Regions from separate parts of the Homo sapiens genome. Here region 1 is linked to region 2. Evidence: fine-mapped expression QTL. A gene starts in region 2. The other region holds a variant in brackets. All regions are shown on one strand. Distances are between the middles of the regions.

What was found. PIP is the estimated chance that this variant, and not a neighbour inherited with it, causes the effect.
Region 1: its variant is the best candidate, but not a certain one, in a credible set for the expression of TRADD in whole blood (TOPMed, PIP 0.73).

What each region holds. Positions count from the first base shown.
Region 1 is chr16:67,385,939-67,391,300 of GRCh38, reverse strand. TPPP3 (tubulin polymerization promoting protein family member 3) reads left to right here. Exons shown (of 4, transcript NM_015964.4): 2 at 184-377; 3 at 669-822; 4 at 939-1,492. The coding sequence starts at 190. The coding sequence ends at 1,127. It also overlaps the pseudogene RNU1-123P. Among named protein-coding and RNA genes, the nearest start is that of TPPP3, 4.9 kb to the left of the region's middle. The variant T/C (reference allele first, on the strand shown) is at 2,911.
Region 2 is chr16:67,157,108-67,162,469 of GRCh38, reverse strand. TRADD (TNFRSF1A associated via death domain) reads left to right here and starts at 2,561. Exons shown (of 5, transcript NM_003789.4): 1 at 2,561-2,632. FBXL8 (F-box and leucine rich repeat protein 8) reads right to left here and starts at 2,513. Exons shown (of 3, transcript NM_018378.3): 1 at 2,414-2,513; 2 at 533-735. The coding sequence starts at 684. RefSeq lists enhancers at 73-585, 3,133-3,392 and silencers at 1,283-1,372, 2,393-2,532.

The sequences.
Region 1 (5,362 bases), 230 kb before region 2:
TTCCTTGGGGCTCTGTGGCCCAGGGCGACAGTGACGGGCCCCTCTCCCCAGGCAGCTCCAGCACCAACTCTGTAGCAGAACCTGCCCAGGTCTTGCAGGTTTGAGGTAGAGGCTGGGATGTTCTGGGCTTGGGGGAGGGGAAGGGCAGATTGGCTGGGAGATGACCCAGGTGGGTCTCTATAGGGTGGCATGGCAGCGAGCACAGACATGGCTGGGCTGGAGGAGAGCTTCCGCAAGTTTGCCATCCATGGTGACCCCAAGGCCAGTGGGCAAGAGATGAATGGCAAGAACTGGGCCAAGCTGTGCAAGGACTGCAAGGTGGCTGACGGAAAGTCCGTGACAGGGACCGATGTGGACATCGTCTTCTCCAAAGTCAAGTGAGCCCTAAGCAGCCCCTGCTTCTCATGTTCCCAGGAGGTGGGGAACTGGGGGGCTGGAACCAGGGAGGACATCAAGAAGGGGTCAGGGAAACACCATGATCACGAAGGTCGTTCTTCCAGGGCAAACCTTATATCTATTGCCCTCCAGAGTTGCTGACCCCTGCGACTTCCCCAAACGTGGGAAAGAAACGCAATTGCATAATTTGTGGTGGCAGCAAATGTGTTTGAGCTTTCCCCTGGGGGAGAAAAAAGAAAGGGGAACCCTCATGGTGCCCACATGCCTGTCAGGGGGAAGTCTGCTCGGGTCATCAACTATGAGGAGTTCAAGAAGGCCCTGGAAGAGCTGGCGACCAAGAGATTCAAGGGGAAGAGCAAGGAGGAGGCCTTCGATGCCATCTGCCAGCTGGTGGCAGGCAAAGAGCCAGCCAATGTGGGCGTCACTGTAAGTGCCCTGCTGGTCTCGGGTGGCCACGGAATGGGGTGTGGGGAATCGTGGCTGTGGGTGGGAAGGGCTGGGCTCCCTCATCAGGTGCCCCTGGGGAAACTCTGTCCAAACAGAAAGCAAAAACAGGGGGTGCTGTAGACCGGCTGACGGACACCAGCAGATACACGGGCTCCCACAAGGAGCGCTTCGATGAGAGCGGCAAGGGCAAGGGCATTGCGGGACGGCAGGACATCCTGGACGACAGTGGCTACGTGAGCGCCTACAAGAATGCAGGCACCTACGATGCCAAGGTGAAGAAGTGAGGCTTGGGAAGACCGCCCTGCCAAGTGCGGCTGCCCCTGCCAGAGGCTCAGGCCTGGGTCTAAGGGGCACGTGGAGCAAGAGATCCTGGTCCCCTCCCTGCTGGACCTGCCACCCAGAGCTTCCTGCCTAGTCCCACTGGGCTGGCCCACCAGGCCTCTGACCCAGGCTGCTCTGCGGCCCCTTCCTCCTCCTCTTCCTGCTCCAACTTCTGTCCACCTGGGGACAGTCTGTGCCTGTAGCCTCATGACCCCAACCCAGCCCCAGGCATGGCTAACCCCTGACTGCTTGCCTCATATTTAAGCTGCTGCTCTGGCCAAGTGCCTAATTTTAACCCAGACCTCAATAAAGACACCTTTTGTACCAATATGGCCTGGTTGACGATGATGGGGGAATGACATTCACACTCCAGTGACCCCCTCAGTGTCATCACCCCGCTGCATGCCACACACTGCTAATCACTCCCCTTCCCCTGGCAGCCTTGCCCAGAAAAAGGCACTCATGAGTCCCCTTCTGTTAGCACAGAGCCATTCTGTCTGAGGAGACTCCTGGGGAAGTCCAAAGCCTTTTAGCTGGGCCTGACGGGAGTCCTGACATCAAAGCTTGCCTTCCTGTGACCAGTGCCTTGGGTTTGGAGAGTTGGCCCCCTCTCCACTTTCACAGCAGTAGGAGGGATGAAACAGCCGACTCAGCCTGGGCCAAGCATTGGCAGAGGCCCCAGAGCCAGGCATCAGCTTTCAGTCTGCGAACAGGGGCTACCGAGGCAAGTCATTTTGGGTTCTGGCTCAGAATACAGAAAACGCAGGGCCAGGCAGAACCTTAGAGAGTAGCTCATCCAGGCCGGGCGCGGTGGCTCACGCCTGTAATCCCAGCACTTTGGGAGGCTGAGGCGGGTGGATCATGAGGTCAGGAGTTCAAGACCAGCCTGACCAACATAGTGATACCCCGTCTCGATTAAAAATACAAAAATTGGCTGGGCATGGTGTTGCGTGCCTGTAGTCCCTCCCAGCTACTCAGGAGACTGAGGCAGGAGAATCGCTTGAATCCAGGAGTTGGAGGTTGCTGTGAGCCGAGATCACGCCACTGCACTCCAGTGTGGGCAACAGACACTTTGTCTCAAAAAAAAAAAAAAAAAAAAAAAAAAAAAAAGAGAGTAGCTCATCTGACTCCGTAATTTTATAGCTGAGGAAACATCCAGAGAGGTGGAGGGGCTTCTGCAGACTAGAGGCCAGACCATGCCTCTTGCCTCCCAGGCCAGGCTCTTTCTAGCAAGCCCCAGCATTGACTTCCAAAACTGGGACTGGCTGACTGGTGATAGGGCTTGGCACCCAACACTAGCCTGTGGTGGGAGCAGGGCATCCCTCAGTAAAGGGGCCTCCTCTTTGATGTCCTCCCATCTGTTCCACATCCCTAGTGGGGGAAGGGAGCCTCTCTGGTCCTGAGGATGCCTGGGCGTTTCCAGATCATCTCACTGAGGCTCTGGGTGTTTTGACAGAGCTATTCCCAAGCCAAGGCTTTCGGGCTACCTCTCCTTCCTTCCTTGCTGTGAAAATGGGGCTGGATGGGACTTTAGGGCCTACCCAGGAGAGGGTGGCTCCCAAAGGGGCTAGAAAAGGTATAAAAGGGCCAGTTCCCAAATGCCTGCTTTCCTGACCCAGATCACAAGACAAAGCAGCACCATTGTTTATCCTCTCATCCCACAGTCTATTGGGGGATGCTCCTGCCCAGGTGGCCCCACATCCCTTAAGCCCAGCTTTCCTTGGGGACAGGGGTGTAGCGGAATAG[T/C]ATGGCTTGAGACAGGGATGTCAGGCGGGAATCGGCAGGCAGCAGGTGGGCACCTGGCCACAGCAGAGCCTTGCCTCACAGCGCGGCTCCTCCTGACCCAGCTGACCGCGTCTCCTTGAGTGGCCCAGGGAAGAGCTTCAGGGACCTTCAGGCAGATCCTCCCACCAGCAAATGTTAAGAGGTAGAATGCAAGGCGTTTAATGAAAAAAAAAAAATGCAGAGGAACAATTCCTCTAGCCCTGGAAAATTCGTTTGAATTGCAAGCTTAAAATGAACATAATAGGAGTGAAACCCAAATCCTCTGGCTTTCACCAGAACAGCCTCACAGGGAAACAAATTTAACTGTGTTCCAAATTGGGCCAGGCTCCCACTATTCCACTGCAGGTGACAGTACCATCCAATGGTAGAGGGCCCAGCGGCTTCTCCATTCCTGTGACTGGCAGTATGGCTTGGAAGAACACAGAGAGAATGGCTGAGCCCCAAAACCCCACGTCATAGGAGTAAAGCCGCCTCTTCTCGAAATGCCGTTATGAAGCCCGAGGGAATTTAAGGCCCACTCAGGGCTGGGAGGACCCTAAGACCAGACGGGTCTAGCAGAATCTGGCACATGACAGCCATTGCCCAGCAATGCCACTGCCCCTCCCCTAACAGCCTCCTTGTGGTTGAAAGCTTTGGATACCCTTGCTAGCAAAATCAGGTTAGACAAAGGAGAGGTTAGGATCAGAGGGACAGAGCCTTTAAAACCTGCTCTGTATGGCTGGGAGAACTCCCAACCTAAGAGTGGCTCTGCCCCTCCCTCTGGACATAGAACCTCCCTGAGGACCAGTCTCCATCCCAGACCTGTCCTGCTTTCTGGTGGTAGTGCCAGGCCTAGGGTGTGGGATTCTGCTCCACGTGTTTTCTGCTTGTTTAAAGGGTCCTCCGCTTTCCATGTTGAGTCCAGTTTGCCCTGAGCTCTTTGGCTCTCTCCTTAACATCGCAACCCCTACCCGTGCCCTGTAGAACAAGTGCCATACAGGGAAAAATCAGAAACAGATGACTTCCCCAGGAGTGGCCAGCAAACCTAGCAGGTGCCTGGCCTGGGGCAGGGTCGGTCACTTTCAATGACAATGGCAAATGGGGTGGAGGGTGGCACACACTGGGCCAGGCTCTTTGTTCCCCTTAGGAGGTGTCCTGAGTGGATTCTGGGGCTAGCACCATCAGGTGTTCATGGAGGAGGCAGGAAGGGCTGGGTTGGAGGAAAGCAGTGCATTATTCCTCCCTGCCCCCTGGTGTGTCCATTAGGTTGGCCTGTGCACTGGGCTGAGACCCTGAAATATAACAACTCAGGGATGCAAGGCCACTGGCTGATGCTCCCCTACCTGGGAGACAAAGACAGGCCCAGGAAAGAGGCAGCGGGGGTGCAGGGAGGCTGCTCTTACTGACATTTCCACAGAGCACAAGCTCGCTCTAGCTCCCTCAGAGCCTTGCAGCTCAAAGAAACTTCTGGCTCCTCTGTACAAGCTGCTTTTGGGAAGCCACTTAAAATCCAGAAGTCTGTGGATTTATAACTTAGAAACTTGTGACTGTCATGTCTTATTAGTATGGTGGTGGCTCTCCTTCCCTGCACAGCATGGAATCAGGGGTACAAGTAAATTATCTAATCCTTCCACCTGTCTCTCTCTCTGATGTGGCCCTGAAGGTGAAGAGAAGAACCATGTGGCATTAGGTTGAAAATCCTTCACTTTCTACACACTCTCTGGCAACATTAGCACGCTGGGAGGCCACTGAAGCAGAAACATACCTAGAACCACTTACATCATCTTTCCCCATTGATTTTTCAAATGCCCAATCAGGATTAAAAGTACAGGGCACCTGCATGTAAACTGGATGCTGAGCCCAAAGCTAACATATTCAGAAGCAGCATATCTAGTCCGGCCTGCCTCTGCCTCTTCTTTGGGCTGCCTAGCTCCGCTTTGGTCCCCCGCTACTTCACACATGATCAACCCATTCTCTTCTTCTCTCCTCCTGCTTCTTCTTCTTTCTTCTTCTTTTTTTTTTTTTTGGAGACAGGGTTTTGCTCTGTTGCCCAGGCTGGAGTGCAGTGGTGCAATCATAGCTCACTGCAGCCTTGAACTCTTGGGCTCAAGTGATCCTCATGCCTCAACCTCCCTAGTAATTGGGCCCACAGGCATGCACCACTGCGCCTTAACTTTTAAAATTTTTTTGTAGAGACGGAGTCTCACTATGTTGCCCAGGCTGGTCTCAAGCAATCCTCCCGCCTCGATCTCCCTAAGTACTGGGATTACAGGTGTGAGCCCCTATGCCTGGTCCTGAGAAAGCTTTTCAAACACAGTCTGTCACTCCTCTGCCTTCCCAATCTAAAATCTTCAAAGAGTGGTGCAACCTTGCTCCTGCTTACCTCCTCTCAGCCCCTCAGCTCCCTGAAGAAACCACGTCCCTTTCCATTTCC
Region 2 (5,362 bases):
GGGCAATGGAGGTAATGATAATACCTATCTACCACACAAGGTTTTCATAAGGATTAAATTAGTTAATATATGTAAGGCACTTAAAAACAATGGTTGGTATATACTAGGCAGTCAATACGTCAGCAATTATTATTATTATTTTGAGATAAACTGTTACTCTGTCGCCAAGCTGGAGTGCAGTGGTGCCATCTCGGCTCACTGCAACCTTTGCCTCCCGGGTTCAAGCGATTCTTGTGCCTCAGCCTCCCGAGTAGCTAGAATTATAGGCGCCCACCACCATGCCCGGCTAGTTTTTGTATTTTAGTAGAGACGGGGTTTCAGCATGGTGGCCAGGCTGGTCTCAAACTCCTGACCTCAGGTGATCCACCCGCCTCGGCCTGCCAAAGTGCTGGGATTACAGGCATGAGCCACCACGCCCGGCCAGCAATTATTTTTTAATATGGGGGAGTCAACCTGAATATCTACCTAGCCCACGACTCCACGGAGAAGGTGAGTGGGCGGTGGGGAGAGGAGTGTGGAGGAGCAGGCTCACCTGATTTTTGTGTCGTGCCACACGGCGCTGCAGGTAGCAGCGGCGGCCCAGGCCCTGCAGACCCTGGCGGCGGCAGCACGGTCTCTCAGGGACAGGTGGCGGAAGATGAGTGCCAGCACCTCCTCTGGCAGTCCCTCTCCAGGCTCGGCCATGGCCCAGATCCGGCTGGGGTGGGAGGATCCGCCACTCCCAATAGCTCCGGCCTGGAGAGAGACGGACGTCTCTGAGGTCGGGAAGGCGCAAAGTGTTGCAGGAAGACCGAGCTTAGGTGTACAAATGCTTGTGGCCTGAGGAACTGAGGGCCTCTCAGACAGCGTGGGGCATCAGATAACCCCGAAACTTGTTCACAAAGCAGATTTCACCGCCTCACCTACTAAATCAGGCTCTCCGGAAAGGGTAAGGCCCAGGAATCTGCATTTCAACAAGCCCCTGTGACTCCACAGGTTCCACGTTGAGAACTCCCCTCCCACTTTTTTTTTTTTTTTTCTTTTTTTTTGAGACAGGGTCTCGCTCTTTACCCAGGCTGGAGTGCAGTGGCGCAATCACAACTCACTGCACCCTCAGTCTCCCGGGCTCAAGCAATCCTCCCACCTCAGCCTCCCGAGTAGCTGGGACTACAGGGGCACGCCACCACGCCTGGCTAATTTTTGTAATTTTGTTGCAGAGACGAGGTCTCGCTTTGTTGCCCAGACTGACCTCGAACTCCTAGGCTCAAGCGATCGGCCCGCCTGGGCCTCCCAAAGTGCTGGGATTACGGGCATGAGCCACCGCGCCCGGCCTGAGAAACCCCATCTTAACCCCGCCGGTTAGTAGAAAGTGACTACAGGGTTAATAAGGCGGGAGCGTTAATGTAGGCTTTTCTTTGTCAGGGACCATGAGCCAATCAGGAAGCGAGGCGTGGGCGGGGCAAAGCTGGATCCACCCCTGGAGGGGAGGCTCCTTCCCCGCCTCCGCCTCGCCGGGGAGATGTCCCGGGTGCTTCCTAAGACAGCCCCACTGGATGAAAAAAAACTTGGGTCTCTGGGACCTGACGGTTCTGGGGCCTGAGGGGCTCAAGATTTAAGTTCCGACCCCTGAGCAGCCCTGGCTCCCGCTGAGCAATTTGGGTTCGGCTGGAACTCCGCAGACCCACCCTGGAGCGCAGCCTTTAGAGGGGGATGGGTTACTGGAAAGTGTGCGTCCTCTTTGAAGTTGCCAATCCTGTTTGTTTTTGTTTTGTTTTGTTTTGAGACGGAATCTAGCTGTGTCGCCCAGGCTGGAGTGCAGTGGCGAGATCTCGGCTCACTGCAAACTCCGCCTCGCGGGTTCAAGCGATTCTTCTGCCTCAGCCTCCCGAGTAGCTGGGACTCCAGGCGCGCGCCACCTCGCCGGGCTAATTTTTGTATTTTTAGTAGAGACGGGGTTTCACCATATTGGCCAGGCTGGTCTCAAACTCCTGACCTCAGGTGATCCACCTGCCTCGGCCTTCCAAAGTGCTGGGATTACAGGCGTGAGCCACCGCGCCCGGCCGCCAATCTTGTTTTAAGGTTCTTAAAGGTTTGTGTACACAAGGCTTCACACTACTCGCCAGTTAATGTTCCCATATCTTCCGGGCTAACAGTTTCTCCCGGAATTTGTGCCACGTGTTTCCTGGGGCTTCAGATACGTTCGGCCGGGCTTGTACCTGGGACCCATGGGCACCCCGTTTTGAGTGCCCACTGGTAGCAGCGATCTTGAAGCCGGATCCCCAGGGGTACCAGAAAATTCTGGTCTCCAGGGGGCGCCCCCTTGATTTACCGAAGTCTGGCAGCTGTAGCTCTTACGAGCCCCCCGCCTCGTAAGAATCGCAAACCCCCAAAGTCGGGTCTTCCTGCCGTCTAACCTTGGGCGCTGGTGTCTTACCTGCTCGGCGGACCAGATGGGCTTTGCCCGGGGCAGGGGACTGGCAGCAGAGGACAGCGGACGGGAAGCAGCCACCGGGAGCCCGCGGGGCGGGACGCGCGGGCGGACGGGGCGGCTCGGGCTAGGGCACCGCCCCAGCGCCTCCGCGCACACCCGGAAGCGGCGGAGTAGAGCGGAGCCTGGCGGGCGTGGGAACCCAGGCCCCGCCGAGGCGGCCAGGTTAGTGCAGCAGGTGGGTGGGTGGGCTCCCCGGTGCGGGCGGGAGAGGAGGTGGATCTTGGCTCCGAAGCGTGGGCGCGGCGCAGATGTCACCGGCGGCTGCTCCAGCCAGCTGGTGGCGGCGGTCTACTGAGCTGTTCGAACACCGTGGGAGGCGGGGGACGGTACGGAATTTGGCCCCCGCAGGCTCCTCGTCCCTGCCAGCACTTTCGAGGTGCAGTAGGGCCCTGCAGGAGAGAGGGTGGGGGAGAAGGGGCTGGTTCTGAATACTTTCCTTGAGCGGAGACCCCCTTGCCCACCCCAGCCGATCGCACGTGCGAAACCCCAGCTTGAGGGTGGGCTAGTGGGAGCCTGGGAAGCTCCCCTCAAGCGCTCGGGAGCTGCGTAGCTGAGTAGGGGGTGTGCCCGGCGGGTCGCAAGGAGTCACAGGCTTTCAGTTCTGGGCCACGCCCACAGGCTGTCTCTGTCCACCCAGCCAGAGGTGGGGCTGCCCCCGGGACTGTTAGGTGTTCAGGGGGCACCGTGCGTGGCTCGTCCCTGGAAACAGGCGCAGAAGTTGTTAGGTCGGTACCTAAGCGCCCCACAGTCTCCGGCCACCAAACTTTCTCAGGACCCAGCCTGGAAGCCTCAGCCCCGCCCAAAAAGGGACGACTCCTGGTGGGTGGGGCGCGGGGCTTCCCAAGGAGGGGCTTCCGTGAAAGAACACGTAAGAAGAGCTGCCAGTCGGCGGATGCGAAACTAGGGCCCTGGCCTCTTTACCCTGTTAACTCGACCTCCAGCCTGGTTCACCTTCCCCATCTTCTAGTACTAGTGAGTGTGAGAAAGCATCCCCAGTCTCCAGGTTCCCAGTACTCCCCACCTCCCCCTCGACCCCCACAGACCTGATGGGCAGACAATGGTCCTGTTCGGTCCCCACTTCCACCCCTTGGGGTGGGACCATAACCAAGTCAAGCACTCTCAAGTCAAGGGGCCAGAAAGACATGAAAGAGGGAATGTTTCCAGGGGAAGTTCCCACTCTCTCCTACTCCCCAGGCCACTTTCGAAGGACTCCCCCCTTATCTCACCTCCGTGGCTGGCTCCCTATTATGGACCCACTTGTCACCTGCAGAGTTTCCTGTTTTTTCTTGTTTTGCTTTTAAAGAAAACAAATTTATTTTGCTCTTTTAATACAAAGAAAATATGTCTACTTCACATAAAGCAGAAAATATTGCTAAATACAAAGAAAATAAAAATCACCCACAATCCTTCCCCACCCCCACCTACCTTCCTTCATCCTGCCCAGAGATAAACAAAATGCAAACTTCCTGTTACTATCCAGACTGTGGTTTGGCGTAAGTACACAAGTATTAATGTTTTCTATGAAAAGATTAGAAGGCTGGGTGTGGTGCCTCACACCTGTAACCCAGCACTTTGGGAAGCTGAGGTGGGCAGATCGCTTGAGCCCAGGAGTTTGAGACCAGCCTGGGCAACATGGTGAAACTCCATCTCTACTAAAAATACAAAAACTAGCCAGGCATGGCGGCGTGTGCCTAAAGTCCCAGCTACTTGAAAGGTTGAGGTGAGAGGGTTGCTTGAGCTGGGAAGGTCAAGGCTGCAGTGAGCTGCGATAGTGCCACTGCACTCCAGCCTGGGTGACAGAGCAAGACCCTGTCTCAAAAACAAGACAATTGAAAAAACAAAGGTCGAGAGTAGTGCCTTACTCCTGTAATCGCAGCACTTTGGGAGGCCAGGGCAGGAGGACAGCTTCCTGTTCCTCATGTAAACAGATGGCAGCTGGGCCACCCCATCTGTCCTGCCCCATAGCTAACACTCAACACTCCTCTTAGCCCACCATATATAAACCCTGATGAGAGTACAGGAGTGTGACTGATGGGGCAGGAGGTAGGGCCTTGAGCCCATGATTATAGGAAAAGGGTGGGTAGGAAAAGGGTGAGGTGGGGAGAAAGAGGAGGCAGTTTTCTACTTGCTGTCTCACGGGGTAGTAACTGGGAGACCATTGAGCTGTAGGTCAGTGCAGTGGTTCCTTGGCTGGGAATTTTGCCCCCGCTGGTCCAGAGCTAGGTTTTTGTCAGAAGATGGAGGAAGGAGATACTATACTAGCACCAAGGGGCCCTGGCTTTTTCTGGACAGGGAAGGAATAGAGCAATTTGTGTTGGAAATGACTGGAGCCGAACTCCAAGGGCTTTATAACAAAAAGGAATTATTTAGCTCACATAACTGAAAAGTCCAGTGTGCAATGGCTTCAGGGACGGCTGGATCCAGGGGCCTAGTATGCTTAGGAATGCACTTCTCCATCTCTTGACTCTTTCTTTCTGTGTCAGCTTCATTCCCAGCCAGGCTCTTCCCAAGCAGTGCTAAAGGAGAGCTACCTTTTCCTTCCAGTTCAGCCCCAAGGGAAGGGAAAGTAGTGCCTCTTTCCTATTGGCTCAACCAGAGTCGCAGCGTTGATTCTCATGGGTCCAACTTAAGTCCTATACCCCGCCCTGAACTAATCACTGCAGAAATGTGAATGGAATATGCAGATTGGCCAGGTCTGGTACACAAGCCCGACCTGGAACTAGGGAGTGGGACACAGGCACATGGATTGAGAAGAGGGAGGAGGGAAGTCCCCAAAGGTAAGTCAGGCTTGGGGAGAGAATCTGGGTAGATGCAAACTACAGGTGCCCTTCGAAGTGAAGACAGGAGGTTTAGTCTTAGGCTGAGGTCCTCCAGAAATGCTGGGCTCAAGTC